2 linked regions of the Homo sapiens genome follow. The protein of the gene in region 1 purifies or fractionates together with the protein of each later gene. This does not show direct contact. Each region holds a gene or a part of one and is shown on either strand. Other genes may lie near its edges. The genes, in order: DAPP1 and GAK.

Region 1 (3,815 bases):
AAATAGCAGAAGTCTTTGTTCTTGGGCCTCTGTTTTTTTCAGGCTCTGGAATATGTAAATCCTGTAAATTGAGCCCTGAACTGCAGCAAATCCATCACTTGCCTTTCCAGGACATATACAACTTGCTCAGAGTACAGGTTTATTATTTTCTAAAATACCTAAATCAAGCAACACAGTGCTTTTCCATGTCTCATTTATAGAGTGTCAGCCTAAAATCATTAATTTTCTTTCATCTAAAATACATTAATGTGTCCAGAAGCAAAGGAGAAATAAAACCATCTTAAATTGTTGCTCAGCTTCGCTTACACTTCTCAGGGGAGGGTATGGGCTTAGGGGGAAGAGAGGTGTGGGGAGGGCAAGAAGTGAGGGTGTGGAGAATCAGGGGAGAGGAAGGAGGTGGACCATGAACGAGGAGATGGGTCAGGCTGTTTGCTGCTTGCAAAATGAAAATATGGCAAAATAAAACAAGTAACAAATACTGGAGATATCACCTAAGTAACAAACTGGTAAAGAATAGCTAGTTAAATTACTGAAAATTCCAGCAATTCTTTGGCTTTAACAAAGGTTACTATACTATTTCTACATATAGCTATATATATGTATAAACACAAAAGAAATAACAAAATGAAAGTGTTTTAGCATACTTTAAAATTAAATATTCAAATGATCTAGTCAGTTGTAACTCCAAGTGAGAAACATAATAAACGTTCTCTTTTTTAAATACTTTCTCAAATCGAAAGTTGTATAAGAAAGTGCCAGTGTTTGGCTGGATTGGCCAGTGCCAAAGAACTAGATTCCAAGCTCTGAATATTTAAATAAATTGATAACTAATTAGTCACATATAAGAGAAGTTTAGAGTAGACCATGGAGCAGCAAACCTTTTTTTTATAAAGGGCCGGGTAACGAATGTTTTAGGCTTTGCAGGCCTTACAGTCTCTACCTCAACTACTCACATCTGCTGTTGTGCAAAAACTACCAGAGAACACAGAAACAAATGACCGTGATGGTGTTCAAACAAAACGTTATTTATACACTGAAATGTGAATTTCATATAATTTTTATGAATATTTTTCTATTTCCCTCAAGCATTTCAAAATGTACAGCCATTCTTGGCTCCCAGTCCATACTAAAACAGGTGTCTGACAGGAATTAACCCTCAGCTGGTGGTTTGCTGACCCACGGAATAAATGATAATAAACAAAATGAGTCCGTATTATAAGGCAGGCATTTTGTAGACACCAGCTCTGGTCTTTGAAAGGCACTGGTATTCCAGCTTTACACAGGAAGAGACTCAAGAGCAGAAAAATCAGGTTGCCTACAGTCTCTGAGTGTCTGTGTTCAAAACCCATGCTGACTTCACAAACCAGGTTGTTTCCCTGCTGTGATAGTCCTAATTTACTGACCACCTACTATGCATCAGCACCATACCATTCACACGCATAATGCCATTTAGGCTTCACAATAACACTTTCAATACGATATCACCATACTCATTTCATAGACGCAAAAGGTGACTTCAATAAGCTAAGTATACGATCCAGGTCACAGACTTTGTAAGTAGTGGAGCTGAGAGACACACCTAGGAACTTACCCCAGAGCTTTCCACTGCATGGTGCTGCTTTGTAGAGCCCACTGGTCAAAGGTATGTATTCTAGTAATGGCAATTAGTAATTATTGGATGCTTATCATGTGCTAAGCACTAGTTTAAGCCCTTTGCCCATGTGAACTTGTTTAATTTACACATTGCTGTGAGGTGGGTATTATTACTAATGTTGTCCCCATTTATAGATGAGAAAAGTAAAGAACAGAGTTTTAATCACATGCTTAAGTTTCCATTCTAACATACCTTCAAATCCAAGAGTTTTGCTCCAGAGCCTTCATGCTTGACTGCTGATGTAACCTCCTGGTTTTCATCAAATTTCTCTCATCTTACTATACTAGTACATGTTCATAGTTCTTAATATGAACTGAGAGAAGCAAAGAAAGTTCTGTGATTATAACAAAGTTTACTATAAAAGACATTATTCTTTCTATTCCTCACATAATATACATGCACATGTACACAAAGCCAGGCCAGCATTCTAGTTAATCAGAACATTATTGAATTTTGTGTAGAATTCATTTTCAGGACTAGAAAAATTTATTCAGCTAAGAAACGTAAAGTCAAAATTTCAGTGGAACCTGTTTACAGCGGTGTGACACTAACTACAGCAATACAGCTTGTTCCTCTTCTGTGCACAGCTCTGTAATCTTGGATTCTAAAAACGGAAGGTGGTTCTTCTGTGGTTGTATAATTAGTATGTAACTAGTGTACAGTTCCATCTCTTCATAACTCAAGTGAATTTCCTCTTCAGTTGTGGTGTTTTTCTGTTCCTCCAAAGGGTGACTTCCTTCTACTTACAAGTGGAAATCTGTCCCACAGACTGTCCATGTTGTGGGGAGTCACTTTGTTTCATTCATTCACTCTTCTACTGGGTCATAGATCTATCTGTTGTATGATGACGCCAGGCAAGGCAGCATAGAGGAGACTACAATAAAGAAGGCATGGCTGTGCAGAGATGGAGGATTCATATGCATGTAGAGTTAGAATGCAGTGTTGTGTGGGCTGAGGGCTGTGACAGTGTCTAGATAAAACAATCTCCTATGGAAGGCTATCTTCTCCACAGTAGAAGTGGAGAAGATGGCCTTGGAGCTGATATGATTTTTGTCAGTTGAAGTTAGAAAAGGTGAAATTTTCTACAGAGAAAATGGCCTGAATAAAGGAGTGATGGTAGCAAAATATGCAAGGATTCAGAATTGAAAAAGCTCACATGAACTCAGACCCACCCAGTCCCCAAGACCCATCTGGTTTGTCAGCATTCTGGTGGTCTGGTTCTGGTCTCTACCTCTATCCATCTCATCCTATGAGAAGCTTCAACTTGGCTTTTCTCTTGTACTTCTGTTTTCATGACCATACTCTTAGATATTTTGTTAAAACCTGCATTAATTTCTGGCTCCTACCAACTCCCGTAGAGGATAAATTCCTATTCTGAGCCCATCGACCTCTGTGTCCTACTGCCTGATAGAGGCCTGCCTCTACCAAGAGCACAGTGAACACTGCTGGGCCTTATCAGTGTTCGCTGCTCACCACTTGCTTCTTTATGGTCATGCTTCCCCTGACCCTGCCCACTAGCACCTGCCCCCATTATCTGTTGTTAGACCTTCTTTGTTTAAAAATGTTTATAACTTTAAAAAGTGTAAGAGTAATCACTTGTTTTAATAACAGTATGATGATTATGTAAAAGAATGTCACTTTTGAGAGATGCATGTTGAATTATTTAGGGTTAAAGTGTCAGGATATCTGTAATTTACTTTAAAACTGTTCATCGAAAGAGTCAAAATTAAACGTTGTATTAAAAATGTGGCAAAAGGTTAAAAATTATTCTACCTGAAATATGGGTATTATTTCAATGCAGTAACATTGATGCTATTTTTCTACTTTCCAGTATATCTGAATTTATTTATAATAAATAGTTGAAAATAATAGTAATATATATTAATTATCAAAAATTAGAGAGATGAAGAGAAGCATCAAAATATAAAGAAAAGCACTAAAATGTCAGCCATGTACTACTACCTAAAATAACATTGTTCATCTTGATTCTAGTTTTTAAGAAATGTTTTTCTGTACACACACACAAACATATATAGAGATTGAATTGTAATCATATTATATGTATAATTTTGCTTTTGCTTTTTGGTAGGATATTTTTCCATCATCTCCTTCTTGATCTGTCTCAAAGTAGGCTCTTGCTTCCCTCTGAAAGCATGGATAT
Region 2 (3,815 bases), about 99 Mb from region 1:
TCAGTGACAGGAAAACACCCAGAGACCGTATGCTCGTTAAGTGACCTGTGTGCCAAAAAGGAAATCACTGTTGAAATGAGAAAATATTTTAAACACATTGATAATCAAAATACCACTTACCAGATGTGTGGGGTGCATCTGAAGCAGGGTTTAGAGGAAATGTGTAACTTCAAATGCATACATTAAAAGGAAGAAAGGTTGGTTGCGCACAGTGGCTTACAGCTGTAATTCCAACACTTTGGGAGGCAGGAGGATTGCTTGAACCTGCGAGATCAAGGCTGCGCTGTGGGCGAGAGGCGTGTTCCCTGCGTGGTGAGCCTGCGCCGTGCCTGGGCGAGAGGCGTGTTCCCTGCGTGGTGAGCCTGCGCCGTGCCTGGGCGAGAGGCGTGTTCCCTGCGTGGTGAGCCTGCGCCGTGCCTGGGCGAGAGGAGCACAGGGTTGCAGCCATGGCACAGATGTAACAGCTGAGCCTGTCAGGAGTCCGCTCTGCCCTGTTGGAGCTAGTCTGGCAGGAGCCTGCGGGCAGTGTCCTCTGCAGTCCAGGGCTCTCGGGAGTGGCCAGCCCTGCTCACAGACCTCATTGTGCCCTCAGCGCCAGGCTGGGTGAGCCGAGCCTGCAGGCCCAGTGCCCAGGGCCATCTCAAGGGGCAGCTGGGGGAGGGAGGCTGGGCATGAGCGGCACTCCCTCTGGGGCTGCCCAAGTTCGGTCTGTCCCAGGACCCAAGCCCGTCTGGCCGACCTGGCTCCCTGCACACTCCCTCCCTCCGTGCCCCTCCCACTGTGCCTCTCCGCCCTCGGTCGTGGCCGGTCTGAGCCTCCGCTGCGGTGGCCGTCGGATTCTCTGCTGGTGCCTGCAGGCTCCTCTGCAGACGTTGCCTCCTCCACATCTCCACGCCAGCTGTGCCACCGCTGTGCAGTCCCTGCCACCCCTGACGACAGACAGCGGCACGCAAAGAGGCTCGGGCGCAGGGGGAAGCTCGTGTTGGCCCCGGCTGGAGTGCACATCAGTCCCGGCTTCGGCCGTGGCCACCTCCGCCCAGAGCCTTGAGTGGGCATTGAGGGGGCGCTGCTCTGCGTGAGGTTGGCCACCCCTCAGGGCGGGCACAGGGTGCTCTCCCCTCGTGCAGGGAGAGGATGTTTTAGAGGGTGAGCAGGAAGGGGTGAACTAGAGGCCTTTCACACATCACAGGCATGTGTGGAGCTCAGAGAAGTGACAGTTAAAACCAGCCGTGGCTCTGACCCACACAGGCCGCCGGGCCCGTCTCCCTGCCCTCCCTCGGCGGATCCCACTCTGCTCTGGGTGTTCCTGGCCCTGCAGACACTGGCAGCCTGGGTTTCCCAGGAACTGGCCGCCACTCTTTTGTGTTTCTTCTTTATTTTCTTAGGTGTATAACATTCAACATGTAGAGATTTTAGGTGGCGTAAAATAAGACAGGCATGGGGAGCCTGCTGCCCGCTGGAGAGCCCAGGCTTATCAGTGCAGTTTATGACAGTGGGATCAGAGATGATCATAGGAAATGTGTGAAATAGCCTGGAATTCCTTAGAGAGCTGTGGGGCTGGGAAATGGTCAGTGTCAGGTCACACCTGCCTCCCCGTGCGGCCAACACCCCAAGGCGGGCCCTGCTGACCCCTGCCCCTGCTCCCCACCCACATGGCCGACACCCCAAGGTGGGCCCTGCTGACCCCTGCCCTGCTCCCCACCCGCACGGCCGACACCCCAAGGCAGGCCCTGCTGACCTCTGCCCTGCTCCCCACAGCTCAGCCTGGGCTGCCTCCCCAGCCCCACAGTGAACACAGCTTTGTTTCCCCCGGAATCATGTTCCCAATTCCCTGGCAGCCGGATTCTAGAGGTCTTGGTTTTATGGGCATCTGTTGACAGTTGTGGATTTTTGTCAGGGCGGACGTCGTCATTTTTATGGAAAACACATTTAGTATCCCAGAGTGCGTGCTCTGAGCTGCCGGGTGGCTGCAGTCTGTGTGTGCTGGGTAGTGAGGGCCAGCGCCTGCCTTGGAACCCTGGGGTCCCACCTCAGAGCTGCCTGCCTGGGTGCCGGAGTCTCCAGCTGTGGGATGTTGTCCCGTCTGCTCTGAGCACGTGGCCTCCCCTGGAGTTGCAGGAAACATGGCGGCCCCGCCCGGTGCCCCTCTGCCTTGAACACAGTCGCGGGCATCCCCACTGTGACGTCCGAGGAGCGAGTGAAATGATGCTCTTCTGGGGCCGTGACCGGGGGTGCTGGTGCCCTGTGGGTTCCTGGGACAGCTGCTGGGTCAGCTCACAGGGCTCCAGCTTCCGCAGGCGGGGGTGGCCGGCTGCCCTGGTTGTTCTCGCCCCGCTGCCTGCAGCTGCCACCTGTTTCCATGCACGTTTCTTTAGTGAATGTCCAAGGACTTACAGACTACTTGGGTGGCCTTCCTAAGTGGTGTCTACTTGTAACCGCAGGTATGACCTGGACGCGTGTGACATTCAAGAAAAATACCCGGATTTATTTCAAGTGAACCTGGAAGTGGAGGTGGAGCCCAGGGACAGGCCGAGCCGGGAAGCCCCACCATGGGAGAACTCGAGCATGAGGGGGCTGAACCCCAAAATCCTGTTTTCCAGCCGGGAGGAGCAGCAAGACATTCTGTCTAAGTTTGGTAAGATCCCGCAGGTGAATTAGGTGAACCCTGTTCTGGTGAGTGTCTCTGTGGAGAGAGACACCTTTGGCTGAGCTCTGGCAGGGCTGGGCCCCACGCCTGCTGCTGCACCCAGGCCCTGAGCAGCTTGGGCTGCAGGAGGTTTTGGAAACTCCGTCGTGGATGTTGGACACCACCACCAGCTACACCAGAGAAGGACTCGCAGGCTGCAATTTCTGAGGCCCATGGGCAGGGACGGAGGCAGAGGGAGGAAAACCCAGGCTCCTGGAGCGAAGCGGGGTTTTGTCCCAGGCGTGTGTCTGGGTCAGATTTTTGTCATGTGTGCTGGACACACGTCCACTCTCACTGTGAGCCTCAGGCCTGCTGGCAGCATGTGGAACAGAACCCTCGCTCCTGTCGCTCTTCACTTCCGAGCAGTTTCGAAACGGCAGCCCAGGAAGTGCTGGCAGGTGGGCCCAGGGCCGTCCACTGCTCATGCCACGCTTGTTCTCGGCTCTTGGTTTGCAGTGTTTGCTTTTTCTTTCTGAGCATCTTCAGCGTCCCTGAAAGAGGCTGTATGTGTGACCTGTGCGTGCTGTGTATGTGTCCGTGGGTGGTGTGTGCCGTGTGTGTGTGTGCACGAGTGGTGTGTGCATTCATGTGTACTGTGTATCTGTGTGCTGTGTGCATTCGTGTGTACAGTGCATCTGTGTGTGCTGTGTGTGCGTTCGTGTGTACCATGCATCGGTATGTGCTGTGTGTGCGTTCGTGTGTACCGTCCATTTGTGTGTGTGCATGCATGTGTACTGTGCATCCGAGTGTGTGCATGTGTGTGTACCGTGCATCTGTGTGCGTGCATTCATGTGTACCCTGCATCTATGTGTGCTGTGTGCATTCATGTGTACTGTGCCTGTGTGTGTGCATTTGTGTGTACCATGCATCTCTGCTGTGTGTGCATTCGTGTGTACTGTGCATCTGTGTGTACTGTGTGCATTCATGTGTACTGTGCATCTGTGTGTGCTGTGTGTGCATTCATGTGTACCCTGCATGTGTGTATGTGCTGTGTGTGCATTCGTGTGTACTGTGCATCTGTGTGTGTGCATTCATGTGTACCCTGCATGTGTGTATGTGCTGTGTGTGCATTCGTGTGTACTGTGCATCTGTGTGTGTGCATTCATGTGTACCCTGCATGTGTGTATGT

Evidence for each region.
Region 2: the proteins of DAPP1 (region 1) and GAK purify together in Homo sapiens (affinity purification with mass spectrometry; one large-scale study listed by BioGRID and IntAct). This does not show direct contact.

What each region holds. Positions count from the first base shown.
Region 1 is NC_000004.12:99,819,797-99,823,611, forward strand, and holds part of DAPP1 (dual adapter for phosphotyrosine and 3-phosphotyrosine and 3-phosphoinositide), read left to right. Parts: intron 1-3,815. UniProt on the Homo sapiens protein: May act as a B-cell-associated adapter that regulates B-cell antigen receptor (BCR)-signaling downstream of PI3K.
Region 2 is NC_000004.12:869,531-873,345, reverse strand, and holds part of GAK (cyclin-G-associated kinase), read left to right. Parts: exon of another isoform or gene 1-45; intron 46-120; exon of another isoform or gene 121-278; intron 279-2,441; coding exon 2,442-2,635; intron 2,636-3,815. UniProt on the Homo sapiens protein: Associates with cyclin G and CDK5. Seems to act as an auxilin homolog that is involved in the uncoating of clathrin-coated vesicles by Hsc70 in non-neuronal cells. Expression oscillates slightly during the cell cycle, peaking at G1.